2 separate regions of the Homo sapiens genome follow, and region 1 is linked to region 2. Evidence: fine-mapped expression QTL. A gene starts in region 2. The other region holds a variant in brackets. All regions are shown on one strand. Distances are between the middles of the regions.

Region 1 (13,268 bases), 51 kb after region 2:
TGAGCCAAGATCACACCACTTGCACTCCAGCCTGGGCGACAGAGCGAGACTCCATCTCAAAAAAAAAAAAAAAAAGACGCTCAGGGAAGAATGAAAGAAGTTCTAGATGCCCCAGCTCAGCTCTCCACCACCAGTACCTCACTGGTGGTCACCACTGTTGGTCTGGGCAGGGGTGGGGGCTACTGACAATGTTCTCTCTAGCAGGCCTGGGGGTACCTGAGGTCAAGGTTAGGAACAGCGCCTCCTTCTCGATCCTATGGCTGACCATGCACAGGGCAGGGCATGGAGTGTGAATCTAGATGGAGAGACCGTGCCACTCCTGGATATGCTGGGCAACTGATCAAAGGGCATTTCCCTGGGGGTGCCTCTGCCCATGGCTCACAGTCACTTCTATTCTGGCCTGAACACCCCTGACTCTGGCCTCTGAGGATACTGGGTTGGAACTGTCATTGATGATGGGTCCTGGAATGGTACTGGGTCAGACAAGGCATTGAAGTAGCTGGGCAGGCAGATATGAGCCTTTGCCAGCCCATTCTGACCACATTTTACCAGCTTGACATCCCTCTCCTGCTCCTCTAGCAAGTTTGCAGGAGGTGGGACCCAAGGAGGTCAGCATGGGAACGGCTTTGGAGACATCTCTTGCTGACTGATGATATTTGCCATACTGCCTCTGTGTCTAAACCTTTTTATTAGTGCCATATTGTCTCTGCTCACTCAACTTGTGTTGGTGACATTTGTTTTGTCCACTACCTACCTCCTCTTAGCTGAGCCCTGGGTAATTGCAACATGGTCATCCTAGACCCTTGTTTGCAGCAATGTCTGCGGCCTGTGAAACACTCACACTCAACCATTTCTGGGACCCTGGGCAGCTCTGCCAGCTGTTTTGTATTGATCTGAGATTAGAATGGTCTTTTCTTGGCTGGATTTAAGGAGTGGGGGGACACAATGGGGACCTGGTCTTCATCACACTCAGAGGAGAGAGGATACCACTCAAAAAGATGGGAGCTGAAGGCCCTCAGAACTGTGAATGCCTCATATGAAAATATGGATTTCTGTCAAAAGCCAAAAGAGTTGAGGCATCTGGTTTCAGTAATGTATTAGATCACCCATCCTTTGGGTGGAGGAAGATGGCTCCAAGTTGGAAGCTGGTCCCATTTTAGGCCATATGAGAATATCAACCACCAGGGGAACCAAGCCAATCCAAGCCAACATTTATTGTTGCACAAGCCTGTTGCAGTCCTGAGGGGATCTTCTGGCAGAGGTGTGGGTAGGAAGCTGAGTGGCCACTGGGGTGAAGGGCAGACAGAGGAGGCTGTGACCAGCAGGCTCCTATCCAGATGATACATGAGATGGAGGCCTCCTCAGCCACACTCCAGGGAGGGTGGGGTGGCAAGGGGGATTCAGGGATAATGGCATTAATAATACAAGTGGTAAACAAATAACCAAGAGGATCTGGCTGGTTACGATACACAAAAGTTAGCAGTAAGAGTCCGTGCTTTCACATTCCTATCAGACAGATCTGAGTTCAAATCCTGTATGTGTAGCAGGGTGAGGTATCTGCTTTCTGTCAGAGCCCATGGGTGCACATCTCTGAGCCTAGTTACAACAGTTGGCACATAGGTGGGTGGACAAGGAGGGCAGCTCTTGATTCCTGTTGCTTCCACAGCACAGAGAGATAAGTATGGCTGGTGTGACAGATCCCACTTGACAGATGAAGCCACTGAGACTTGGAGAGCAGGTAGGCTTAGTCCGAGACCTAGCATTCGCTGGTGGCTGCCTTCTCATTTCCCAGAGGCTTCAGAGTCCCTCAGTCCTTGGGTTGCACCGTCCTCCCACCAGACTGACCCAGGGGCCAGTCCACTTCGGTGGGGAACCACTAAGATAGGTGTGCTCTCCAAACAAAAACTCCAGAATAACCCACTTTAAAAAGCTGATAACTAAGCGTAAAGAGAGAATAGGGTAGTGAGCTGCATCTTCAGTCAAATGCCTGAGTGGTAATGCTTAACCCAAAGGAACTTGACAGCAATGGTGAAATTTCAGGCACTACCGTGGTGTTGGTGCTGGTGACCTTCCCGGGCAGAACCTTTCTGCCCTCAGGTCACACCAGTGTTGTTTGAGGATCCACCGGTTGCTTTCCTCCAATTGGGCAGAAGAGCCAGCAGGGGGCAGAGTCAGGATGAAAGTATGTAGACTTTTTGCCCTTGATTGGCGTAGGGGGCCTTTGGAGGAGGAGTCTAATGACTGAGTTCCACCTGCAATCCTCCAGGAGAGGAGCTCCCATCTCTCTCACTTGCTAGAAACGCTCCAGGCAGGCTCTAGGGCTGCGTTCTCTAGGAGTGTCCGGACCAGAGACCAGGGGGCCGGGGGCAGCCTCCGAGCCCAGGGCCGGGGCTGGCCGCGCCCGGGCAGGCCTCTGTCCCCGGCGTCTGCCGGGGTGAGTGGGAAGGGGCGGGAGGGGCCGCCTTGGGCCCCTGGGATCCTGGTGGTCAGACCAGGGAGACTTCGGCTTGGAAGCTGGAGGAGCGGCGGGCACCTGGGCTGACGCGGGTCAGCATGGAAACCTGCGTGCTGCACGTGGCGCCGTTGCTGCCTCCCGACGGGTGCCGGTATTTGGGGTTCCAGCCCAGGACGCCCTGCAGGTGCCAGCGCCGCCACTTCCGCCTCAGCTCCGCCTGCACCTAGGAGAGGGGAAGGTGGTCAGGCCCACTGCTGTGGAGCCTCTTCCACTGCTGATTGGGCTGCCCTGGACTTAGGGTTCTGAACTAGCCAGTCTTATTCTCTTTAGGAAATCAAAATGGAGGGACCCCTATGCTGCCTCGGGCGGTGCAAACTTGGGACTGGGTTGAGGCCAGGTTCAGAAGGAGGCCTTGGAATGGCAGGAGGTAAGAGGCAGAGAGGATCCTAGAATACAGTCCAGGGAGAGGGAGGGATGCTGCCTAGGGGTGACTGTACTCCAATTCTTCCCATCCTGGGTCTCCAGCTCACTTGAGTGGGTTTTTTGTGCAATGTAACCAGAGCTCCACAGCAACTCAACCTTCATTGGAAGCCCTCATCCCTCCCCACTCACTGCACACAGCCACTTAACTAGGTGTTTCTCAAACTCTGTTGTGCACAGGAATCCCCCTGGGGTTTAGTAAAAAGCTGTTTGTTTGTTTTTTAAAATAATTATTAAAATGCAGATTCTAAGCCAGCAGGTCTGGGGTGGTCCCAGAGATGCGCATTTTTAACAAGGGCCTAGGTGACACCAGTGCTACTAGTTTGAGGACCATACTTGGAGCAGCAAGGTTTAACCCGTCCTTGCTCTGCACATATCCCACCAATGTTTCCGGACCCTGGTCCTGGGAGTTCCATTGCCTAAGCCCCAAGGACTGGGAGGGGCTTACCTCACCATTGAGGAAGCAGTAGAGGATAGCCACCACAAAACCCTGAGAAGGAAGATGACAGGAGAGGTGAGGTAGACAGACCAGAAGCCCCCAGCCCTGCCCCACCCCTGGCTCCAGCCCCTGTGTTCCCCTGGTTAAGGAAAGAGCTAAGCACAAAGTAGGTGCTTATCTAATACTTATTACAGTAAAAAGGTTGGAATCCAGTGGCAAGGGCCAAGACTCCAGGTTGAATTCCCTTAAAAGCCAGGGAAGAATGCAGCCTTAAGTCAACAGCCCATACCTGGAAAGACCCCACGACGAGCTCAAAGACCATCTTCACTTCAGGCTTAAAATTGTCCGGAAAGAAGGCGAACATGATGTAGTGTACTCCAAACAGGGGGATCAGCAGGAGTGTGGACCTGGCTAGCCTTCTGGAGACAGGGGAGGGACAGGCCATGGGTATGTGTGTCCACACATGTGGATATGATAGGGTGTGGCATGGGGGCAGCTGGAGGCACAGAAGATGGGGACAATGACCAGGAAGTATGAGGATGGACTGTAGGTTCCTCTGAATATTATGCCCTTGTCTGCTCCTGTTCCACAGCTGCAGTGCCTCTGCCCTTCTGCCCCCAGCCCTCCTGGCCTGGAGGGAAGCATGAGAGAGAAAGAAACCCCCTCTATTCTCACCCTTCTGGAGGAGAGAGGGTAAGAGGTAAAGGAGAGGCCAGTGAGAATGATGCTAACAGGGACATGTTAGCTGAAATCCACTATTGGGAGTTCTGTTGCCTGGGCCCCCTGGTCTAGGAGAGGCTTACCTCATCATTGCAGTAGAGGATGCTCTCAGCCATCAAGAGCAGTAGAAAATCTCTTAGGCAACAAGAGATTCTGGTTCCTCCTCTCCTGGTCTCAGTTTTTCCAATTTGTATAATGCAGTAAGTGTATGCTCGACATAGTCAAATTATAGAAACAGAGGCCCACTATGAACTTGGAAGTGTTTTGGGTACTATGAAGTATAGTGCATCCATGAGAGACCATGAGAGAAGACGTACTAGGAAACAAGTCTTTCTAACTGGGTGCTGACCACATATGCCCAGGGCCACTTGGGAGGGTGATGGGGACCCAAGTTCATACCTGATCACCAGGGACAACCCAAAATTAATCAGTATCGCCCTCTATCTGTGTTTTTTCTGCTGTGTCTGCTTCTCCAGAAGTTGCCACCTTCTCTGGGGTTGCATCCCCCTCCTCCTACCTCCCCACACCAGTGCATATACTCCCAGCGTGCTCTGAAGGACCAGCTCCTTCTTCACAGCTTTGTGTGCTCAGTAGGGTCAGCATTCATTCTAAATGCTCACCCGCCTCCCATGGCCCAGAGCTCTTCCTGGTTCAGGCCTCCCAGCCACCTGACCTCATAGCTGATCCAGGCAGTGTGAACCCATTGCTCCCTGGCTAGGAGAGGTGGGGTGTGGATAGGGAGGGTCTCTGACTCTGTCTCTCCTGCCTTAGCAGTCAGTCCAAGGAAGTCTAGCCCAAGGCCTGAGGTCCCACAGCAAGCTGGGGGCAGAGGAGCTGGCCTTGCCCCTCCCACTCCTTCCTGGACCTGGTTCTCAGCCATGCCAAGATCCTGAGCAATGCCCACCCCTCTTCGGCTGCAAAACTATCCCACACACCGGAGGCTAACAGATGGAGGCTTTCTTTAAATCAAAGGCTTATGGGGAGGTGTAGAGTGGGAGCTGACAGCTTCTCCTTGAGGAGCTTCATCTCCAACTGCCCCCACCCCTTTTGCCTGCTGACAACTGTTTCCTTTCTGTCTCACCACACAGACCTGGCCCTGACCATGGCCAGCTCTGTTTGCCTCAGATTCAGGCCCTTTTGAACCATTGTAAGTTGGGGGAAATAAGGTCCCATCGGCAAAGGAGAGGATAAGGGTGCACAGGCCCGATGTGCTGCCCCTCAGCAGACTGCAGATGCCCCCCCCGTCCCCCCCAGCCTTTCCTTCTCAGACAGGAAGGGAAGCTCCGCCTACACACCTGGCAGGAGAGAATGCAGTCACACCAGGAATGTGAGTCTTAGTCTCATCAGGGAGAATCACAGGATTCCAGAATAGAATCCTAAATCCAGCAGTCTGTGACATTCTAGCCAGGAATCTTAGAACCACAGCACAGACTCTCCAAAGAGAAGCCAGGCCAAGAAGAATCCCAGGACTGGAAGGCCTTGTGGGACGTCCCAGGTTTGTCTTGTGTCAATAGCACTGATACTCAATCTCCTACTCCCATCTGTGAGCATGCAGACCCTACTTGCCTTCCCACAGCCTCCCTTTTCATATTTTTCATGTTTCTTTAGCTCTGTCTTCAAGCCTTGTTGCTCCCGCAAAAAAACCTGCCTCTTCCTCCAGTCCTCCCAAGCAGGGGGAACAGTCCTGACACCTTTCCAAGCCCTGGTCCATGGACATTGTGCCCCCTTCTCCCTGCCCATGGTGACCTGCTCCAAAACCCTCAAGGAGAAGGGAGTGTATGTCATTTCCTCCCTGTAAAGTAAAGATAATTTTGCAGGGGACTGTGTGGATGAAATGACATGATGCATGGAAATCCCTTAGCGTGTGCCTGGCATGTAAACTGCAGGTGTCATCATTATTACTGAGGAATACTGAGTCCCGAACATGGCTGTCTCATTGGTGGACTGGGGTCTCCCCCAGGGCATTCATCTACTATGTGTTTATTGCACCCTTTTTCCATGTGAGGCACATGCCAGGGACTGGGCACATGGTATGAACAAGACACAGGTCATCGGTGTCCTCTTGAGCTCCCTGGCTTGGCAGCAGATGCATACCTGGGAAGGATGCTAGGTGAGTGTGGGCAGGAGAAGCATGCAGGGCTCTGAGTGCAGCCTGGTGAGGGTGGGGCTGGAGCAGGGGATGGTGGTGGGCTGAGCCAGGCCATGGTGGAGGTGGGAAAGAACAATGTGGCTCTTTGGTGACTCTGGATGTTTGGGGTGGGAGGACTTCAAGGAGATGTGGGATGATTTGAGGACTGGGGATGGAGGTACTGGGGGCTGAGGCACTAGGCCCACACTCACGAGTATGGACTGCTGTCACTCTTCCTGATATCTGGGGGCCGCAGTTTCTGAAGCAGGATTCGGATGATGCAAATAAACAGGATGAAGTTTACCTAGTGGGTGGGGACCCGAGTTCGGGCAGTCAGAGCGGGAAGGCTGAGGTGTTCAGGCCCCTTGACTGCTGGCCTGTCTTCTTTCCCAGGGTCCTGCTGCCCCTCTCTCTATCTTACCTCTCCTCTGGCATTTCCCCTTTGGGCAGGTCATCCGGGAACTCTACCTCCTTCAAATCCCTAAGGACTGTGCTCCCAATCCGCTTACGCTCAAGGAAGAACTGGTAGGACAGGGGTGGGGATGATCCTGCATTGGGCATTAGGAAGCTACGTTTCAGTTCTGACCTAGATACTAATTTCCCATGTGACCTTGGGCTAAGTTGCCTGCCCTTTGGGCCTGTTTCCCCATCTCTAGGTGGTGGGAGGGTATCTTACCAAGATGGAGGTGAGGATGGGGCCCTTTATGATCCACCACAGTGAGGAGTTGATGGTGTCCCAGCACCTGAGCAGACCGTGGGGAGGAATGAGAGGGATTGTCCTCAGCCAGAGAGAGACTCAGCAGCACCTCCCCCAGTTGTCCCCAGCTCTGCTCCTGAGCACTTTAGCAACCCCGGGCCCAGAGTCTGTTGCTCCCCAGGTCCTCCTCCAGCCTCCCCTCTGGCCCGAGAGCTGTGGTTTTTGTCCACTCACCAAGGCCAGATGGCATTATCATCCCACCCAGGGGGCCTGCCCAAGTGATGGCGGCCGGGGGAGTGTGTGGGGCAGCAGCTCACCCATAATCCTCAAAATGGATCCTGGCGATGGTCCACACCATGGTGAATGTGCTGGGTACCCCTGTCAGGCCCAGGGAGAGTGAAAGAGCAGAGAGGGCACAGGAAGCAGGGGTAGAGGGCATGAGGGAGAGATTTTGGAGAAAAGCAGGGAGAGGGAGGGAGAGAGAAAAGGGTGGGTTGTCAGTCTGCTGTCTTTGGTTGCATAGGTTGTTCACCACGGAGGGATGCTCCACTGAGGGGGTGAAGCTGTATGCCTGAAGGGCTGTGTCTACCTAGACGGACATTCTCTTTCTAATTGTGACAGAGGCCCTTTATAGATTAGCAGTGGCCCTGTGTATTTCGGGAACTAAAGGGAAATGGAAAGATGTTCACAAAATCTGTCCCACAGGTCAGCCCTAGGTGCAGCTGCAACCTGAGGGACTTGTCCTGGGATCAGACATTTTGAGGACTTTCTTGACCCTTGGCTGATATCCTTGCAGGCAGGACCTGCAGCTAAGCAAGACGTAGGACTGCAAGCTGGGTTGGCACCCTCCCCCTAGGGAGTTCTCCAGGCCTTGCCCCCTCTGTCCCCAGCCTGGAAGCCCTCCCTGGTACCATACCCCAGCCGATGAGTATGTACCCCCAGAAGTACTTCCGCTCAGAGAAGAAGGAGACGGCAAGCAGGGTGTACAGGTAGAGGCCCTCCACCAGCAGCCAGAAGAAGTTAGCCATGACACAATATTGGAAAAAGACCATGGCTGCCTTACAGCCCACCTGCAGGGGGAGGAGAAAAGACGGGGTTCACTGGGGCTGTCAAGGGTCCTTGACTGCCCACACTCGTGTCTGGGGGGACAAACACAGTTGCAGTGCAGCCAACTTAATCTCTTTGTTGTTTTGCATTATCCCCTTAAAAATGTACTCATTGGTTTTCCCATTTTCCCTAATTTTAGATCCTCTGATACTTCGGGATAAACTGGTGATTTTAATTATCCATCCATCAATTCATCTATTCACCTTCCCATCTATATATCTACCCATCTGCCCATTCAATCATCTACCCACCTATCCATGTATCCATTTATTTACCCACTCACCCACTAGACATTCACTATCAACTCACTCATTTATCCATTTTTTATCCATGTGTCCATCCATCATCTATCATCTTCCCATCTATCAATCCATCCACCCACACACCTATCTCTCCATTCTTCTACCAACCCACTCAGTCATCTACCCATCCATTCATCTCTGCACCCACCCATCAATCCACTTGTGCATCCACCCACATATCTACCTACCTGCCCCTCTGCCTATCATCTGTCCAATCTTCCTTACTTAACCCATTTATCCTGCTGCCTACTTAGCCATCCACCAACCTGCCCATCCACACTCCCACCCCACCCACTCATTCATCTAATGCCAATTTGTATTGAAGGTAGCTGGAAGGTATGAGGGAGAATTCTTGCTTGAGTTTCAAGAGTCTGCTCAATGTGGGGGAGTGGAGGGCTGTGGACTGTGGAGTGGGGCCCAGATGGAAGTGTGGAGGGAGACTGGGACTGAGAAGAGGGTGGAAGAGGGGGAAGTAGAAATGAAGAAGAAGAGAAGAGGGGAGGGGT[G/T]GCCATTCCTCCTGGGGTTCAGAGGACCGAGTGGAAGAATGGGTTTCTTAGGCAGACGAGGACCATGAAGGAGTTAGGGAGACCCATGAGTAGAGCAATCACAGGGCTCTGGGTGGCCCACTTGGCATGACTGGAAGGTATTCTGGGCCTTCTGTCCCCTCCCAGAAAGTCCCCCATTTCAGATCAAGCCTAGATGTCTGTCAGCCAGGGCTTAAAGCCACCCTCCACCAGGAAACTGTCTGGCTTCCACTTCCCCCTGTACCCAAAACATTGGTTCCCACCCTTCCTTCCTGTACCCTTGGTTTGCGACATCCTCAGAGAGAAGCCTCCCCCTGCCCCCACCACTCCCTTTGGTTGGAAAGTCCTTCCTCAGGTCTCGCTTCAGTCCCTCCAGTTACAGGAGTTCTTGCCTCCCCATCTTCCTCCCATTTGCTTTTGGAGAATAACTCTTTTTTTTTTTTTTTTTTTTGAGATGGAGTCTTGCTCTGTCACCTAGGCTGGAGTGCAATGGCATGATCTCGGCTCATTGCAACCTCTGCCTCCTTGGTTCAAACGATTATTCTGCCTCAGCCTTCTGAGTAGCTGGGATTACAGGTGCTGACCACCACACTCAGCTAATTTTTTTTATTTTTGTATTTTTAGTAGAGACTGGGTTTCACCATGTTGGTCAGGCTGGTCTTGAACTCCTGACCTCATGATCCGCCCAACTCAGCCTCCAGAAGTGCTGGGATTACAGGCGTGAGCCATAATCCGCGTCTGGCCATAACTCAGCTCTTTACCAGGACAGTTATCTGTGCTTCTTCCTAGTCTTAGAAAAGCTTCGCAGTAATGAATTGGGAAGCCAGTCTCCATAATTATCCGTAACATGTGCACAGGAGGCAGCAGGTTCCTCCACAGGTCCTGTGGCTCACAATGCTCATGTCTGACTTGGCCTCACAGCTCCTGGGACAGAACCTCTGAGAAGCTCTGGGAATGGCCAAAGTGGGTCCCCTAGGTTTTCTCTCCCCCTTGTTGAAATGCCTGAGATTCCAGTATGATCATTTCACTCTTTGGGGAGAAGGTACTGCTGACCCCTGATATAATGCACTGCCTCTGGGGTCATGCATGAAGCAATGAGTTACTGACCACAAGGAATGAGTGGGGGCTGGGGCTGATCTCAAGCTCTCTGTCAAAGCTTGGGGCACTCAGAGAGGGTCCCTAAGAATCCCTTGGAGATGGCCCCCTTAGTGACTGGCAATGAATTCCTTAGATGATCCCTTTACCTCTCTTCCCTAGGAAGGCCCAGAACCAGCCTGCTGTCAGGATCAGAACAAAAGAGGAGGACTGCATATGTATGGACCCACTCCAGATGGCACGGGGACGGGGGGAGTAGGAAAAGTGGCATGGTGAGCAGAGCCCTGGCTATGCAGGTGGCAGATGGCAGAGTTGGAAGGAATCTTGGAATTCCTTGCACAGATGGGGAAACTGAGGCTGTAAGTTCCCCAAGGCCACATAGGAAGTTAGCAACAGGTGGGACAGGTGCTCTGGGCTGTGGCCATGAAGTGTCCCATTTCCCATCTGCTTTTCTCACTGGCGGCGGCAGGTCTGTGAGCACCCAGATGGGTGAGCAACATCTCCTGTTGCCGGAGGGGAGTGTGATTTGAGTACTGCCAGGTGGGGTTGGGTGGGGGTTAGGCTATCCTTGGATTGAGGGGTGGGGTGGGAGGGAAGAGGGAGGAGGGAGAGGGAGAAGCAGGGGGAGAAGAGGAGATTACAGTGGTTAAAGATAACGGCGAGACTGAGGGAGGTGGGCCAGGGCCAGGATCCTCACCGAGCCCTCGGAGCACTGGTCCGACTCCCCGCTGTCGAAGAGGGCCAAGTCTTTGATGAAGACAGCGGCAGCCCTCAGGATGAAGGATATGAAGAGGTGCATGTGGATGTAGTTCCGCGTGCAGTGGAGCTTCCTGTGTGGGGTGGGCAGATCTGGGAGGCCAAAGGGGCCTTGGATCCCCACCCCAGCCAATGCTGTCCTATGTGCTGAGCAAGGGTGGGGCAGGGGAGCATGTGTCCTCCAGAGGGCAGGCCCCGCCTCAAAGGGGATCCCATCCTGAAATACGAGCCCCACCCCCAGGTACCCCATCCACCTGTGCAACTGGGCTCCCAAGGGCCTCAACCTCGTGTGTGGCCCCAGAAGCCTCATTCCTGTGTGCAGGCCCCACTCTCTGGTGCCCTGTCCCCAGGTGCAGGGCCATCCTAGGGGAGACTAGGCTGCAACACATGGAAGAGCTCAGCCACCTGCCTTCTCCAGGGGAAGCTGGCCTGGCAGGAGCTGGGGAGTATGTGCTGCTGGGGGGCAACAGTGGAGGGGTCGGGGCACGCCTGGGCCACGCTGGGCTCCACTGTGGGAGGGACACTTGCCAGGTTTGCTTTGAGGCCTGTGACTTGGGCTGGGCCTCACCTGAACAGGCTCAGGATAGCTGTGGCGACCAGAAGGGTGGCGAGGGACAGGCCGTAGCCAATGGTGTAGCCGGTCTTCACAGAACCGTAGAACATGGTCTGCTGCTGTTGGAGGGACAGGGAGAGGCTCTTGGGTGGTGGGGTGGGAGGCTCATCTAGGGGGTATTGGCAGGGGTGGGGTGCCCTACACACTCTGCCTGCCCAACCCTGCCTCAGCAAATGAGGAGGCTGAGGTCTGGGGCTCCCAAGAGCAGCTGAGCCCCTGACCCCTAACGCCCTGGTTTCTACAGACAGGGCAGGACTGTGTCTTAGGGTGGGGTGGGGGTTGAATGTACTTCCTGTCTTTGCTTCTTTACGAGGGACAAGTTGGTGAGGGAGAGAATGAAGACCTTGCACGTCCCTTTTGTTAATTTCATGTCTCCAGCCATGTGCCCGGCTTCCCTTCTGTGCCAGCTCTGAGCTGGGCACCCTAGGGGTGGGGTCTGCTTGCCCTTCAGACACCCCTCGAGGCCCTGTCTCTGTATAGGGAGGAGAGGTATGCGAGGTTGCGGGATGTCGAAGAAGACACTGGCACTAGTATGTCCCATTTTGGGCCCTTGGGAGTTGGGGTCGGTGGGATGAGGGCAGTCTGGCCTTTCCGGTGGAGGAGGGCAAAGCTAGGCCCCGAGGGTGTCTCGCTTGGTCCCCTCTCCTGATGCCCTCCCCATGGACACAGGTGCAGTGCAGCACGACAGCCACTAGGCAAGCCACTCCTTCCTGTCAGCCTCCCACGCTTGCCTGAGGAGAGGCAAGTGGTTAAGGGGGAATGAGGGCCTATAGCTCCAGTGGGCTTCAAAGGCCTCTGAAGAAATTGCTGTCCTCGGGGGTGGGTGGAGTGAAAGCCCGGTCTGAGAAGGGCGCCTGAGGGTGGGGCAGATGCCATCGCAGACAGACACACACACATGCATTTGCACCCCAAAGCAGTGAGGGGCTCCTAGCTGAGGACTCCAGCCTCCCCATCAATGTCCTTACCAGGCTCCCCAGTCTTTACAGAGACCATGTTTTAACTGCTCCGGGGAAGATATCTGTCCTGGGACTGAGAATGACAGGCTCTGTCCCTGTTCCTGACTGGCTATTTGGTAGCCAAGTCTGGTTCCTTCCAGGACCTGCAGCAACTCGGTTTCCCCTCTGGATGGGATGGGGTGCTGGTGTCTGCCTGCCCTGCCAACTCCCGGGCTGAAGTGAGGTTCCCATGAGGCAGTAGGGTGGCCCAGCCTGGGGGAGCTGCTTCAGCTTTTGCTGCTCTGGGGGCCCCTCCTGTGGGAAAGCCTCCTCCCATACCCTGTCAGGGGGAGCCAAGGGTTGGGACCCCAGAAAGGCAGGCCTGGAGGAGGCTAGAGGAGGGCAGACTCCAGGAGTCCTGTTCCCACACAGACAGCAACCACACCCCTCGGTGGGAGAGATCAAAGTCTCCTAGGTGGGCCCCGGCGCTCTGCAGGTGAGGTGGGGGTGCCCTGAGACCCACCTCATCCAAACTCGCTGCCTTGTCATCCAAACCACAGGCAATGGGGTACGGGCCAGGCTCCAGGTGCGTCCAGCCTTCGTCGGTGCAGCTGCGGCTTACATTGCGGCCTGGGTGGAGGGCAGGGGCAAGGACAAAGGCTGAGGCCGGGAGCATGGGGACCTGGCTGTCTCTGCTTGGAACAAGGCAGAGAATTCAGCCCTACTCCCACCAACCCTGGTGCTGTCAGGTTCCAGCTGCCCTGACCCAGTTACCCAGGGCACCGTGGGGGCACCTGGGGCAGGGAGAAGCCTCTTCAGGGCTCCCGCACCGATGATAGAATCAGAGCAGACATTCTTGGGCTCAGCCCTTTTGTTATGGTCTGAACCTGACCCCAAGTACAACATACACTCTTATCCTTGTCACAGACCCTGCCTGGATCCTTGTCACAGAATGATTCCTGACCCTTGCCGTGAGCAGAATGCTGACCCTTGTCACAAGGCCACGGCTGGGGGAAG
Region 2 (16,266 bases):
CGAAGGCCACCGACATCCCGAGGAACCTCCGGAACCACGACCGCCAAGCAACTCGACCCACGATAGGTGGGGCCTACGCTCTCGAAGTTGATTGGATGCTCCCGCCTACAGGGCGGGGTACAGAAGGGACGTCATTTGTGACTGGACGCGCAAGAGCTATACTCAGCGCTTTCCTCGGTCCCAGCCCCCAGAACGCCGGGGGCGTTTTCGTATCCTTTGCGCTTGCGCAGTCTGGAGAGCGAAACTTGTGGGTTGGGGCTGGGTCTACTGCTGACCTACCTGGCGTCAGCACCTCCAGTGTTAGGCTGTGCATGCTTTTTTTTTTTTTGAGATGGAGTCTCGCTCTGTCGCCCAGGCTGGAGTGCAGTGGCGCATCTCAGCTCACTGCAAGCTCCGCCTCCTGGGACTACAGGCGCCCGCCACCACGCCCGTCTAATTTTTTGTATTAGTAGAGACGGGGTTTCACCATATTAGCCAGGATGGTCTCGGTCTCCTGACCTCGTGATCCGCCCGCCTCGGCCTCCCAAAGTGCTGGGTGTGCATACTCAATCTATCTGCAGGAGCGGTTTGCTCGGCTTCACCCAGCGTGTCTGGCACCCAGATACATGGCTTCAGATCCATTGTCCTCTCTACATCACTCTGTGCCTCCAGGTCTGCATCTGGAGCATGAACATTGGCTATGGCATTGTCTCCTGCCAGGCCAAATCTGCAGGCCAGGAAAACTCTGGTATTAGCTTTACTCTTTGCTGAACGAGAAATTCGCGTTTTTCCACATAGCCTGGACTTATTTGGGGCAGGAATAATGCTTATTAGGTTGGCAACCCTAAAAAGCACTGGTATTTTCTCCATTTTACAGATGACGAAACAGGTTAAGTAACTTGCCCAAGGTTCCTTAGCAAAGCCAGTCTCTGAATACGGGCAGCCTGGCTTTAGAACTCTCACCCTTAACAACCCGGGACTGCCCAGGCACCATACCGCAAAGGTGTTGTGCCGCAAGATGCAAGGAGGAAGCTGGACATACCTTCTTGGGCCACATGGTTACTCCTGGTGACCACTGCAACTGAATTGGTTGTAGTCTTCTAGACCAGTGGTCCCCAGCCTTTTTGGCACCAGGAATTGGTTTCGTGGAAGACAATTTTTCTTGTCTTCCACGGAGGTGGGGGTGGTTTTGGTATGAAACTCTTTTACCTCACATCAGCAGGCATTAGATTCTCATTAGGAGCGCGCAACCTAGATCTCTTGCAAGTCCAGTTCACAATAGGGTTCACGCTCCTGTGAGAATCTAATGCTCCCGCTGATCCTAATGCCCCCGCTGATCTGAGGGGGCAGAATGCTCGGCGGTAATGCTTATCCGCCCTCTGCTCACCTCCTGCTATGCGGTACCGGTCCCCTGTTCTAGCCATCCGTGGTGGATGTGGTAACAAGATTCGTTTTCCCTGGAGTGAGCAGCGGCCACTTCATTTAGGAGGGAGATCTTGGGAACCTACACTCCTAAAAAGGGGAGGTCCCTAGAGCTTTATTCCCCTGAGTGGTGGCCCTGATCCTGAGCAAGCTCATCTGCTTTACTGGGCTTTCTCTCCACAATCCCTTTATTCAAACCTGTGAAAAGGCAGCTTTCATCCCATTTCTTTTTTCTTTTTTTTTTGAGACAGAGTCTCGCTCTGTCACCCAGGCTGGAGTGCAGTGGTGTGATCTCGGCTCACTGCAACCTCTGCCTCCCGGGTTCAAGCGATTCTCCTGCCTCAGCCTGCTGAGTAGCTGGAATTACAGGTGCCTGCCACCACACCCGGCTAATTTTTTTTTTTGTATCTTTAGTAGACATGGGGTTTCACCATATTGGTCAGGCTAGTCTTGAACTCCTGACCTCGTGATCCGCCCGCTTCGGCCTCCAAAAGTGCTGGGATTACAGGTGTGAGCTACTGTGCCCGGCCTGCTTTCATCCCATTTCACAGAGAGGTAAACCCGGTGAGAGAAGTGAGGTAACACCTGAGCTGGGGCGGACTCAGGGCTTCCTGGTTACCAAGCCTGCACTGTTAACTCCACATCAGGCTTCCTCCTCAGGAAAATTCCCCAAAGCTTTCAGAGACACAGAGTGGGCAGAAAAGGAAACATCAGGAGCAGGATACAGGTCTTCCGTAGTTCCACTCAGCCCTATTCCTGTTTAGACAAGTGAGGAATGACAATAACATGAGATGGTCCAGACAACAATCCTCCCACCTGTGAAAGCTTCCCTGGGATTATGGGCATGAACCACCATGCCCGGCCTATACTTTTGTTCATAAAGTTTAAGTGACTTGCTTACCAATCTTATGCAAAATTTCATGTAATTTATATAATACTATATAACATAATGCTACATATGGTATGTATATATACACACAAAGATCTGTCCTGGGTATTAAGTATCTTACCTGTAGGCTTTATGTTTATGGCTCTGAAATGGAGGGAACTGGGACATACATGTTTTGAGGAATAAAGTGAAGGGGTTTTTTTGTTGTTGTTGTTTTTTGATACAAAGTCTTATTCTGTTGCCCAAGCTGGAGTGCATTGGTGCAATCTCAGCTCACTGTAACCTCCACCTCCCAGGTTCAAGCAATTCTCCTGCCTCAGCCTCCCGAGTAGTCTGGGACTACAGGCATAAGCCACCATGCCCAGCTAATTTTTTTGTATTTTTAGTAGAGATGGGGTTTCTCTATGTTGGCCAGGCTGGTCTTGAACTCCTGACCTCATGATCTGTCTGCCTCGGCCTCCCAAAGTGCTGGGATTACAGGCGTGAGCCACCGTGCCTGGCCCCGGTTTTTGTTGTTGTTGTTGTTATTGTTGTTTTTGTTTTTGTTTTTTTGAGACAGTTTCACTCTTGTTGCCCAGGCTGGAGTGCAATGGTGCAATCTCGGCTCACTGCAACCTCCACCTCCGGGGTTCCAGCAATTCTCCTGCCTCAGCCTCCCAAGTGGCCAGGATTACAGGCATGCACCACCACGCCCAGCTAATTTTGTGTTTTTGGTAGAGATGGGGGTTTTTACCATGTTGGTCAGGCTGGTCTTGAACTCCTGACCTCAGGTGAACCACCCACCTCAGCCTCCCAAAATGCTAAGATTACAGGTGTGAGCCACAGAGCCTGGCCTAAAGCGAAGGTTTTGAGTGAGGTTTATATAAGGATTTGATTTTTTTTTTTTTTGAGACGGAGTCTCGCTCTGTCGCCCAGGCTGGAGTGCTGTGGCACGATCTCGGCTCACTGCAAGCTCCGCCTCCCAGGTTCATGCCATTCTCCTGCCTCAGCTTCCCCAGTAGCTGGGACTACAGGCGCTCGCCATCACGCCCGGCTAATTTTTTGTATTTTTTTTTTTTCAGTAGAGACGGGGTTCCACTGTGTTAGCCAGGATGGTCTCGATTTCCTGACCTCGTGATCCGCCTGCCTCGGCCTCCCAAAGTGCTGGGATTACAGGCGTGAGCCACCGCACCTGGACTGATTGGTTTTTTAACATCATTAAAGTTTCTATCAGGTAAAAAAAAATGAGATGGTGTTAGGGTGAGGCAGGTGTTATAGGGGACCAACCTGTTCCAGCATACAGGGAAAGACCTCCAGAAGAAAAGGTTTATAAAGGCAGTATAAAGGCAAAGTGGAGGTTAAGCAGGACACAGGTGTCCAGATTCTGTACTCTCCTAGGAGTAATGGGAGCCATGGATGGTTTTAGGCAGAAGAATGATGAAGCCTGAGATGCATTTAGAGTTTTATTGGCTGTAACATGGTGAAAGTTAGGGAAGACGCCCAGATGAGAAACAAAAAGAACAGTGACAAGGCTGCTACAAGCATGCAGGCCAGAGATAGTGGGAGCAATGAGAAAAGAAGTGTGTGCATTTGAAAGACATTAGAAGTAGATTTGGCAGGCCTTAGTGATCAAGTGGGGAGGGAAAGAAAAGGGAAATTAGGGATGCCTTCTGGGGTTCTGGGTTAAGCAACTGAGAAACTGGTGATGCCCCTTATGTAGGCAGGGAACAGTGGGGGAGATGCTGGAATGGAAATGAAGGTGATATATTCAGTTGTGGAAATGTACAGTGTGAGGTGATGTCAAACGATGTTGAGGCTTGTGGCTATTTGGGGCTGAAACTCAGGGACAAAGGCTAGGTTGGAGATACAGCTTTGAGAAACATCACTTGTAGAAACTGACTGGAACTATGTAGTGGATAAGACTGCCTAAGGAGAATGTGATAGTTTCTCTTATGGCAGAGGAAAAGAAGCTGCAATGGAGACTGAGGGGAGAAAGAGACTAGAGATATAGGAAGAGGAAAACCAGGAGAGTGGGGGTTATGGCTTTTTTTTTTTTTTTAAACAGTGACTGAAAAGGACATACAGGACAGCAATGACAAATGCTGTTGAAAGGTCAAGGAAGGGGTGGGTGCAGTGGCTCACACCTGTAATGCCAGCACTTTGGGAGGCCGAGGTAGGCAGATCACTTGAGGTCAGGAGTTTGAGACCAGCCTGGCTAACATGTTGAAACCCTGTCTCTACTAAAAATACAAAAATTAGCCAGGCATGGTGGCACAGGCCTGTAGTCCCAGCTACTTGGGAGGCTGAGGCTGGAGGATCACTTGAATCCGGCAGGCAGAGGTTGCAGTAAGCCTCAGTGCCATTGCACTCCAGCCTGGGTGACAGAGCGAGACTCTGTCTCAACAACAACAACAAAAGAACAAGGAAGAATAAAGACTAGGTCTTTGAGGAGGGCATTTTCAGTGATATGGTGAAACAGGTATCAGAACTGCAGGGGACTGAGAAATAATGAAAGGTGAAGGTGAAGCAATGGAGTGTTCACATATAGACCACTTTTTCCATGAGGTTTGGTTGTAAAGGGGAGAGGGGAAAGAAGGTGGTAGCTGGAAGGAGAGGAGTTGTCTGGAGCTAAGGGACATCACTTTGATGGTTGCTCTTTCTTCAGTAACGGAGGTTCCTGGGAGAGCAAGCGGGGGAGGGGGGGTTGAAGAGTGGGAGATCTGGGGAGCATGCAGGATATTTGGAAGTTGATTTTGGGGGAGAGCTGGAGAGAGAGCTGCCTTGGCAAATAGGAGCGCTGAAAGGTGTTGAGGACCTAGTTGAAGTTGACAATGTATGTAGCACTGATCTGTGTGGTTGTGAGATTTTGTCCAGCAGCACTTAGAGCCAAGAAGCAGATTCAGAGAAGACAGAAGGTTGGATTCTTCCAGGATTGTAGTGCTGCCAGATGGGTGTTACTATCCTTCTAGTTATGCCAGAAAGATAACTGTGCAAGGAATATAAGTATATTGGGAAGAATGTGATGGAGGTGATAAACCCTGAACTCTCAGCTGATGGGGAAGGAAATGAAGACTCGATGGAGCTTATAAATAAAACAAAGTAGAGGGACAAATGAACTGGAAGTTTCTGCAGGCTAGAGAAACCATGAAAGGAATTCAGAGAATAGCAGAAGGACAGATGAAAGATCAGGTGTCTGCATTTATAACTTCAGAGGTGGAGCTCTTCTGTGGTCCAGGGTGTTACCCTAGGAGTGGAGGACTGAAGAGGACTGGAAGAGAAAGACTCTGGAGTTGACTGTGAACCTGGAGCCAAAGTGAACAATGATTGGAGATGAGAGCTAGGACTTTAGGTACTACATCTCACCCCTGTTGTCCAATCTACCATGGTGCCTGAACCACACCAGTTGCACCAGTCAGAGAGTGTAAGGTCCTGTTCTAAAGCACTCGCACCACAAGTTTTGAGAGCCCAATTCCCCATATTTGTTTGTTTGTTTTGTTTTGTTTTGTTTGTTTTTTGAGATGGAGTTTCGCTCTTGTAGGTCAGGCTGGAGTGCAATGGTGCGATCTCGGCTTACTGCAGCCTCCTCCTCCCAGGTTCAAGTGATTCTCCTGCCTCAGCCTCCCAAGTAGCTGGGATCACAGATGTCCACCATCACGCCCGGCTAATTTTTGTAATTTTTCAATAGAGACGGGGTTTTGCCATGTTGGACAGGCTGGTCCCTGACCTCGTGATCCACCCACCTTGGCCTCCCAAAGTGCTGGGATTATAGGTGTGAGCCACCACACCTGGCCCCAATTCCCCATATTTGAAGAGCACTTATGCTACAGGGTTTTCAATTGCCTTTACCAACCCTGAATCTCCTGGTTTTTCTCCTTCTTTGTGCCTGTTATGACCTACCCTCATTATCAGAGACTCATTGTGGGAGGGGACTACACAAGGGTATAAATCCCAGGAGGTGGTGAACCCTGGAGGCTATCTTAGACTGTATCACAATTCTCTTCAGTTTTCATTTTGTAATTTTTCTCTGGCTATGTAAGCCCCACTTCGATTTCCGCCCATATGATGCTGACTTTCAAAAGTCTATGTCCCGGCTAGGCGTGGTGGCTCACGCCTGTAATCCCAGCACTTAGGGAGGCCAAGGCGGGCAGATCACTTGAGGCCAGGATTTCGAGACCAAACTGGCCAATATGGTGAAACCCCCATCTCTACTAAAAATACAAAAATTAGCTGGGCGTGTTGGCAGATGCTTGTAATCCCAGCTACTTGGGAGGCTGAGGCAGAAGAATCACTTGAGCCTGGGAGGCGCAGGTTGCAGTGGGCCGAGATTGTGCCACTAAACTCCAACCTAGGCCACAGAGTGAGACTCAGCCTCAAAAAAAGTCTGTGTTCAGCCCAGACCTCTACATTGACCTGCAACCTGTATATGCACCTGCTGTGTTGACATCTGTATTAGTCAAGGTTCTCCAGAGAGAGAGAACCAATGTGATATCTATATATCTACAATATAGATCTATATCTATAGATATATGGGAGGGGATTTATTAGGGGAACTGGCTCACATAGTTATGGAGGCTGAGAAGTCCCACAATAGACCATCTACAAGCTGGAGAACCAGGGAGGCTGGTAGACTGCTTCAGTTCAAGACTACCCTGTCTTAGACTTGGCCTCAGAACCAGGGAAGCTGAATGGTGTATCTCCCAGTCCAAGGCCCAAGCCGGGAGAACCTGGGGAACCACTGGTACAAGTCTTGGAGTCCAAAGGCTCAATACTTGCTAAATGAATAAATGGACGGACTCTACTACCTAATCTCCTAGAGTTAGGAGATTAGGGGAACGGGGAATTCTGATGCCAAGGGCAGAAGAGGGGTGTCCCAACTCCAGAGTAGAGAATTTGCCTTTCCTCTGCCTTTTTGTTCTATTATGTGGTGCCTGCGCATATTAGATGAGGACAGATCTTCCTTACTCAGTCCATTGACTTAAATGCCAATATCTTCTGGGAACACCCTCATAGACATACCCAGAAGTAATGTTCCCCCAGCTACCTGAGTATCCCTTAACCTAGTCAGGTTGACATCTAAAACTAATCATCGCAAAATCCTAACCAAGTCTCAAAGGTGCCTCAAATTCAACTTGTCTAAGATGGAGCTCAAGATCAATCTTATCTCCTCTTCCAGTGTTCTCCATATCTGTGAATCCCTGCACCATCCATCCATTTATCCAAGGCTGAACAGTGGCATCATCCTTGAAGCTGCTTCATCGCCCCTTCACATCCAACTCATCACCAAGTCCTATTGATTTTGCTCCTACATTTCTCTGCAGCCTTCTTAGATCTCTTTTTCTTCACTCTCACCCTAGTCCACACTCCAGCTCCATTCTCTCTTGCCCAGATGACTGCACTGGCTCCCAGGCCAGTCCCACCATAGCTCTGTTGAGACTTCTCCATTTTGATCTGCACTTTAGCAGCCAAAGTGAGTTTTATAAAATGCAATTTTGACCAGTGTTCTATGGTCCTAAACTTTCCACTATGGTCCATAAAATCCTACATGGTCCTGCCCCTTCTATTCGCTCTAGTGGATCTCACTCCACTCCTTTATTCTCTAAACTCTGAGTTTCTTTTCTTTTTGTGGTAAAATGTACATAACCATTTTTAAGTGTGCAGATCTGTGGCATTTGGTACATTCACATTGTTGTGTGATCATCACTACTATCCATTTCCAGAACTGTTTCATCTTCTCCAGCTGAAATTCTGTACCTATTAAGCACTAACTTTCCATTTCCCCCTTTCTGGGTTTCTTTTCATCCCTCAAAGGAGCTCTGCTGCCTTCCACAGAGTTCTTATATACATGCTAATCTCTCCATCTGAAACACACTTCCTCTCCCCTTTGCCTAGTTAGCCTCCTGTGATTCCCAACACCAGCCTAGAAGCTTCTGTAAATTCTCCCAAAACCCCTGCTCCTCCCTGAAGAGCAGTTTGTATTTATACAGGTGTTTGATTGTTTGAAGGGTGCTCTCACCCTGCCTCCTCTCTTAACATAGTTTTTCGTGTCAGGAATTCCTCGCTTTGTCCACAACCCCTGGCACATAGCAGGTGCTCAATACTTGCTAAATGAATAAATGGACGGACTCTGCTACCTACCTAATCTCCTTCCAGCCAGTCATCCATCTGTGGGTGCCTCGGTCCCCAGCTTGGGGTGTGTCCCCCTGGGTCGGACTTTGGCGCCCCATCCAGGCTGGCAGTAGGTTGTGCTCTTTGGTTTGCCTATCTCGGGCCTCCCGCCCAGCCGCGCGGACCGCAGAACATACGCCCCGGGCGTTATCACTCTGTCACGCGGAGCCTCCCCGCCTCCAGACGTCAGTCCGGTTGCTACCCCGGCAGGAATCGAGCTTAGATCACGAAGGCTCCTTCTCACCTCCGGACGTGAGAATTACAGGCTTGGATCTCAAACCGCCGCGGTGAGAGCCGGGAGGTGGGAAGAAAGTTGGGAGGCGCGCGCCCCCGTCACACTCCCTCTCCGTTTGGGTCGCAGCCCTTTAAGAACCACTACGTTCGCGCCTTCGCCGGGACGGGGGCTGTGGAGGCGCGCCGGGATTGGTCGGTTTGGGTGCGGGTGTCGCTTAGCAGCAGCGAATGCGGGGTAGGGGGGAGGTGGGGTGGCTCAAGACTCGCGCACGCGCACCACGGCCTACCTGCGCCTGGGCTGCCGGTGACCTGGGCCGAGCCCTCCCGGTCGGCTAAGATTGCTGAGGAGGCGGCGGGTAGCTGGCAGGCGCCGACTTCCGAAGGCCGCCGTCCGGGCGAGGTGAGGGCTGGCGGGCGGAGGCGGGTGCCGCGGCCCGTTAGCCAAGAGCAGGCGGGTTAGGGTGTGGCGCAGGGCGGGCCCAGAGGTGGAGGCGGCCCAGGGCCCACCCGGCCCTCAGTCCCGGCCTTGACCATGGGGCTCCCCACGGGGCTTCACTGGGCTTCTTGGAGTCCTCTGTCCCCTTTCTCCCGTCAGCCTGTTCCCGGACCCCGGGGCCACCCAAGGCACGCGCCTGCAGGAACCCTGGGCTGACAGATGGGCGCCAAGGGCTTCTCCCAGTTGGAAGAGATGGGGAGTGAGAAAGGGGACGATTGTTTCTTTAACCATTCACGAAGCTCACGTCAGAGCATTGTTTAATCTGAATAGCAAACTTCCCTTAGCATGCCCGTGTTATTAGACTTTAAATATTGGATACACTGAACCAACTTTTCAGAGCACTAGGTGTAGGACGTTCCATTACAGGTTTTGTGTTCATTACAGATTTACACATGTACCTCCAGAGCCAGAAGGATAAAGCACTCGGGGAAAAATTAGGTTTGTAGAAATAAAAGCCACGGAAGACTATTGCCAGTGTGAAAAGTAATTGGTGAAATTTGTGACATGGTCAGAAAAAAATACAGCTCAGAACCAACATATAGGGTAATATTTAATTACATTTTGCAGAGAAGAGTTGATCCCACTAAAGATAATTTTAGTAAAATGAAAAATGGAAGCAACTGGAAATGGTTTAACGTTGCCAGATAGAATTAAATAAACAAATAGTGTTTCCTCTGGAAAGTACATTTTGGACAATGTTAATAGCTCTGATTTAAGTGTTTGCATTTGCAACAGAAGCCATCTTGGAGTCAGTGTTTTTTATTCTTAGAATAACTTAGAAATCAACTAAATTCAAAAAGTAACATGATCATAGAGAGGACAACCTGACTTCAAGGTAATACAGTGGATAAAGAGCAGTTGTAACAAGTGTAATCTCAGGCTCCTTCCTCTACCAACAGGTCTCTGATTAGCTTATTAGTGCTCTAAGGAGAAGAAATTATTTTAGAGAAAGGGAGTAGCTGTAATTCCCAAAGTTGGATTTGTAGAAGAAGGATGTGGTGGAAAGATCCTAGGCTTTAGAATATTTGAAGTAAGGAAGTCTGGGTTGAATCTAGCTTTACCTCTTGAGCCTTACAGCTGCAGTTTTCCCACCTATCCGGTATAGATTATGTCTACCTTATAGTTACAAGCATTTAATAACATTATCAGTGTAAAAGGTCCTATCAAGTTTAGTTCCCTACCCCTCTTAGTTCCTAACAAATGACGAAACTGACCTCTACCCTCCTCTTCACTCCATCCCCAAGCAACTTGGAGCCTTAATAGAATCTACAGATTTGGTAACCAGTTCTCAAGTCCTGTGGCTGAAGGTGAATTCAGTAAGGGTGGCACAACTCAGTTTTGTCTTCTGTATTGTGTATTTGAGTCTTCTGTATTCTGTATATACTTTATGGTGAACACTTTGTGTTTGAATATTTGTGTGCCAAATGAAGCCTGTTTTGTCTAAATTCCTATTTTGCAAGGTGCAGTCATCTCTCTCTTTCTCTCTGTTTTTCTCTTTCTTTCTGTCTCTCTCAGCCTCTCTCTCTCTCAGTGCATGTGGTAGGGGCTTGAGGAGGGGTTAAGGGTAAAAGGTGGAAGAAAAAACAGGATCAAGGGTAGCCTGCAGCATAGGCATAAAGTCTTTGTTAATAGAACAGAGATAATCTATGACATGAGCAGTTTATAAACAGATGCTGGGAAGAAGATTTAGGAAATAAGGGAGGCAAATTAAAATATGTTTTTATAAAACCTAGTAACACGGATGCTGTGTATTTGATTACTACTTCACTCTACTTTTAGACAAATTTCATCTGTATAAACCTTTCTCTTTTTCTCTCCAAATACAGATTTATTGTGGAAAAGTGTTCAAACTGTAGATCAGAACTATGGCAAGGGATCTGTAAACCTGCATTTCTTGTTTCAGTGAGCAAAAATAAGGCAGCCCTTAGGTCATTCATTCATTTAACTTAGCAGTGTTTACTGAGTGCTTCCTAATATGTACCAGGCAAGGTGGTAGGTTATGACATCCACTGCCTTGTGGAAGGATCTGGTAAGATCTGGAAGACATTCCAGTGTCTCTTGTATGAACATTCTGAAGCTGCCTTTGTCCTTGTGGAATTGATTTTCTTTTCTTTTCTTTTTTCTTTTCTTTTTTTTTTTTTTGTTTTTTGAGACAGGGTCTCACTTTGTTGCCCAGGCTGGAGTGCGGTGATGCAGTCGCAGCTCACGCAGCCTTGACCTCCTGAGCTCAAGTGATCCTCCCACTTCAGACTCCCAAGTAGCTGGGACCACAGGTGTGTGCCACCATGCCTGGCTTTTTTTTTTTTTTTTTGTAGAGATGGGGTGTCATTGTGTTGCCCAGGCTGGTCTCAAATTCTTGGACTCAAGCAGTCCTCCCGCCTCAGCCTCCCAAAATGCTGGGATGACAGGTATGAGCCACCATGCTCAGCCTGCTTTCCTAGTTTTTTGTTTTGTTTTGTTTTGTTTTGTTTTGAGATGGAGTTTTGCTCTTGTTGCCCAGGCTGGAGTGTGATGGCACAATCTCAGCTGACTGCAACCTCTGCCTCCTGGGTTCAAGTGACTCTCCTGCCTCAGCCTTCTGAATAGCTGGGATTACAGGCATGTACCACCATACCTAGCTAATTTTGTATTTTTAGTAGAGACGGGGTTTCTCCATGTTGGTCAGGCTGTTCTCGAACTCCCGACCTCAGGTGATCCACCTGCCTCTGCCTCCCAAAGTGCTGGGATTACAGGCATGAGCCACTGCACCCAGCCGCTTTCCTGTTTTAAGTTGAATACTAGTTGTCTTTGAGCAGCTTTATTTCAAAGAGTCCTGAGATTATAGTACCTTCCAGTTTAGAAATGTGATGTAGTAAAGGAGCTATTCACTATAAAGTGTGCCCTTCAGTGTTCATGCATAAAACATCAAAATTACAGTTAATTAGCAGATAAGATATTGGTGGGGATATTTAAAAATTATATTTAAACAAAAAAGTATTAGCATAATTTAAGTAACCAGTACATGAGGATCTTAAGTTAATACTTTTTTCCAGCTTTTATTTTAAGATAATTATAGTTGCAGGAATTTGCAAATATAGTACAGAGAAGTCTCATGTACCCTTCACCTAGTTTTCCCCATTGATTACATATTATATAATTCTAGTAAACAGCAACTCCAGGAAATTGATGTTGGTATAAAGTGTGTGTGTGTGTGTGTGTGTGTGTGTGTGTAGTACTGTCACTTTATCGTGTGTAGATTCCTGTAATCATCACCGCAATCAAGATACAGAATTATTCCATCACCAGATGCCTTTGGCTGTTCATTCATAGTCACACCCATTCCCTTCCTCTCTACCATCCCTAACCTCTGACAACTGTTTATCAGCCCTCCATTTCTATAATTTTGTCATTTCAAGAATGTTACGTAAAAGGATGCATATTGTATATAACCTTTTGATACGGGCTTTTTATAACCAAGCATAATGCACTTGAGATCCATTCAAGTTGTTCTGTGTACCAGGACCATAGTTTATTCTTCTTCTTTGCTGAGTAGTATTCCATGGAATGAATATACTGCGGTTTGTTTAACCATTCACTATTTGTAGGACATTTTGGTTGTTTTCAGGTTTGGTTGTTATAAATAAAGCTGCAATGAGCAATTGTACAGAGGTTTTCGTGTAGACACAAATTTTTATTTCTCTGGGATAAATGTCAGGAGTGTGATTGGTAGATTGTACAATAATTGCATGTTTAGTTTTAAAAGAAACTGCCAAACTGTGTTTTGTTTTTGTTTTTTTTTTTGAGATGAAATTTCATTCTGTTGTCCAGGCTGGAGTGCAATGGTGCAGTCTTGGCGCACTGCAACCTCCGCCTCCCAGGTTCAAGTGATTCTCCTGCCTCAGCCTCCCAAGTAGCTGGGATTATAGGTGCCCACCACCATGCCTAGCTAATTTTTGCATTTTTAGTAGAGATGGGGTTTCACCGTGTTGGCCAGGCTGGTCTCGAACCCTTAACCTCAGGTGATCCACTCACCTCAGCCTGCCAAAGTGCTGGGATTACAGGCATGAGCCACTGCGCCTGGCCCAGACTTTTCTAGAGTATACCATTTTACAGTCCAGTAATGCATGAGAGATCCAGTTTGTCTCCATGCTTGCCAGTGTTTGATACTGTCACTATTTATCATTTTAGCTGTTCTGATGGGTAGGTAGTATTATCTCATTGGGGTCTCAAGTTGCATTTTCATAATAGCTCAATATCTTTTCATGCTCTGATTTGCCATCCATATATCCTCTTTGTGAAATGTCTGTATGTGTGTTTTTCCCATTTTAAAATTGGATTGTTTGTGTTTTTTCACTGTTGAATTTCAAGAGTTCTTTATACATTCTAGATTTGAGTTGCTTATCAGATATGTGGTTTACAGATATTTTCTCCCAATTTCTAGCTTGTCTTTTCATCCTCTTCACATGGGCTTTCCTAGAGAAGCAAAATTGAAAAGTGTTCAATTTTGTTGCAGTCCAGTTTTCCGAATTATCTTATGGATTATGCTTTTGGTGTCATATCTAAGAGCTCCTCACCAAGTCATAGGTCCTGAAGATTTCCTCCTATGTTTTCTTCCAGTTTTATAGTTTTATTTTTCATATTTATATCTATGATAAATTTTTAGTTAATTTTTATGTAAGATGTGAGGTTTAGGTCAAGATTCTTTCTTTTTACTCCCGGCACTATTTATAGAAAAGACTACCCTTCCTCCCTTAAATTACTTTTGCACTTTGTAAAAAATCAGTTAGATATACTTATGTAAGTATATTTTTGGGTTCTGTATTCTGTTTCATTGATCTATGTCTATTCCTCCAACAATACCACACAATCTTGATTACTATAGCTATATAATAAGTCTTGAAGTAGGATAGCATGGTTTTTCCTATTTTATTCTTTTTTCAGAATTGCTTTAGCTATTTTAGTTTCTTTGCCTTTTCATACGCATTTTAGAATAATCTTATCTATAGCCACAAACTCGCTTGCTTATTTTTTTTTTTCAGTAGTTGTATTAAACCTGTATATCAGTTTGGGGGAGAATTGACATCTTTGCTTTGTTGACTCTTCCAATCCATAAAACATGATATATCTCCCCATTTATTTAGCACTTTGATTTCAGGAATATTTTGTAGTTTTCAGCATACAAGTTCTGTATATGTTTTGTTAGATTTATATCTAAGTATTTTATTTAAAAAATTATAGCTTTATTGATATTATTTTTTAGAGTGATTATAAATGGTATTTAAATTTTGGTTTCTATATGTTCATTGTTCGTATATAGAAATGTAATTTTTTTTAGATGAAGTATCACTCTGTCCAAAGGACCAACTTTTTGTTTCATTGATTTTTCTCTGTTTTTAAAATTTTCCATTTCATTGATTTCTATCCTATTATTTCCTTCCATGTTTGTGATTTAAGTTTATTTTGCTCTTCTTCTAATTTCTTGACTTGTGAGCTTAAATTACTGTTTTGAGACTTTTCTTCTTTTGGAATGTAAGCATTTAGTGCTATGGATTTCCCTCTCGGTACTGTTTTAGCTGTGTGACACAAATTTTGATATATTTTCATTTTCATCTAGTTCAATGTATTTTTTTAATTTCCTTTATATTTCCTTTTTAACTTACGGATTGTTTTAAAGTGTGTGTTTAATTTTCAAGTGTTTGGAGGTTTTCTTTACCTTTCTGTTATTAATTTATAATTTGATTACACTGTGGTCATATAACACACTTTGTATAAATTATTTTAAATTTATTGAGTTTTGTCTTATAGTCCAGGATATGGTCTATCTTGGTAGACATTCTGTGGTTTCTTGACTTAAACTCCTGTCCTCAGCAATCCTCCCACCTCGGCCTCCCAGAGGGCTGAGATTACAGGTATGAGCCATTGTGTCCAGCCTATTCTGTGGGGTCTTCAAAGGAATTCTTCTGTTGTTGGATGCAATATTATAAATCATGATTATATCCTTTAGTTGATAGTGTTTTCTAGTTCTTTTTGTAAATCTTTGCTGATTTCTGTTTACTTGTCTTATCAATTTTTGAGGTGCAGTTGATTGAAGTCTCCAGCTATAACTATGGATTTGTCTGTTCCTCCTTTCACTTTATGAGTTTTTGCTTCACTTATTTACATCTTTGAAGTTTGGTGCAAACACATTCAGGATTATTATGCCTTCTTAGTGGACTTATTCTTTTATCATTATGTAATATCCTTCTTTGTTCCTGGACATTTTCTTCACTCTGAAGTCTATCTGATGATAATATAACTCTTGCTTCTTTTGATTAATGTTTGCATGCTATATTTTTTCCATCCATTTACTTTCAACCTACCTATATTGTTATACTGGAAGTGAATTTCATGTAGATAGTATATAATTGGGTCATGTCTTTTATCTACTGTCAGTCTCTGTTTTGGCAATTGTCATATTTAGACCATTTACATTTAATGTAATCATTGATATATATTAGGGAATAAGTCTGCCCTTTTTTGTTTTGTGTTTGTTCTGTTTGTTGTTGCCATTGTTGTTATTTCTCTGTTTTCTTTTCCTTGACTTCTTGTGGGTAATTTGAACATTTTAAAATAATTACATTTTAGGCCAGGCCTAGTGGCTCATGCCTGTAATCCCAGTACTTTGGGAAGCTGAGATGGGAGGATTGCTTGAGACCAGGAATTCAAGACCAGCTGTGGCAACATAGCAAGATCCTGTCTGTACAAAATATATCTTTTAAAAAATTAGCTGGGTATAACGGTACATGTCTGTAGTCCCAGCTACTTGGGAGGCTGAGGCAGAAGGATCACTTGAGTCTTGAGGCTGAGGCAGAAGGATGACTTGAGGTTGAGGCAGCAGTGAGCCATGATTGTGTCACTGCGTTCCAGACTGGGTGACAGAGTGAGACCCTGTCTCAAAAAATAATAATTTCATTTTATAATCTATAGTGTTTTTTAGTATATCTCTTTGTATAGTTTTTAGTGGGGTGTATATGTGTTTGTGTGTGAGTATGTGTATGACTTGTTGTGGTCTCCTGATGTGTTTTACTATTTCAAATGAAATGTAGAAACTTTACCTCCTTTTATGTCTTTGAACCCTCCCATT

What was found.
Region 1: its variant is fine-mapped to the expression of SEC22C in lymphoblastoid cells (GTEx, PIP above 0.99).

The regions. Positions count from the first base shown.
Region 1 is chr3:42,525,500-42,538,767 of GRCh38, reverse strand. VIPR1 (vasoactive intestinal peptide receptor 1) reads right to left here. Exons shown (of 13, transcript NM_004624.4): 4 at 12,775-12,881; 5 at 11,272-11,375; 6 at 10,645-10,777; 7 at 7,836-7,989; 8 at 7,237-7,297; 9 at 6,899-6,965; 10 at 6,435-6,526; 11 at 3,664-3,793; 12 at 3,384-3,425; 13 at 1,200-2,678. The coding sequence ends at 2,487. VIPR1-AS1 (VIPR1 antisense RNA 1) reads left to right here and starts at 6,162. Exons shown (of 3, transcript NR_046654.1): 1 at 6,162-6,204; 2 at 6,673-6,747; 3 at 7,810-7,872. RefSeq lists an enhancer at 4,888-5,389. The variant G/T (reference allele first, on the strand shown) is at 8,835.
Region 2 is chr3:42,574,648-42,590,913 of GRCh38, reverse strand. SEC22C (SEC22 homolog C, vesicle trafficking protein) reads left to right here and starts at 8,947. Exons shown (of 7, transcript NM_032970.4): 1 at 8,947-9,068. It overlaps SS18L2 (SS18 like 2), which reads right to left and starts at 54. Exons shown (of 3, transcript NM_001370300.1): 1 at 1-54. The coding sequence starts at 16. RefSeq lists enhancers at 8,532-8,661, 8,654-9,480 and a silencer at 8,862-9,191.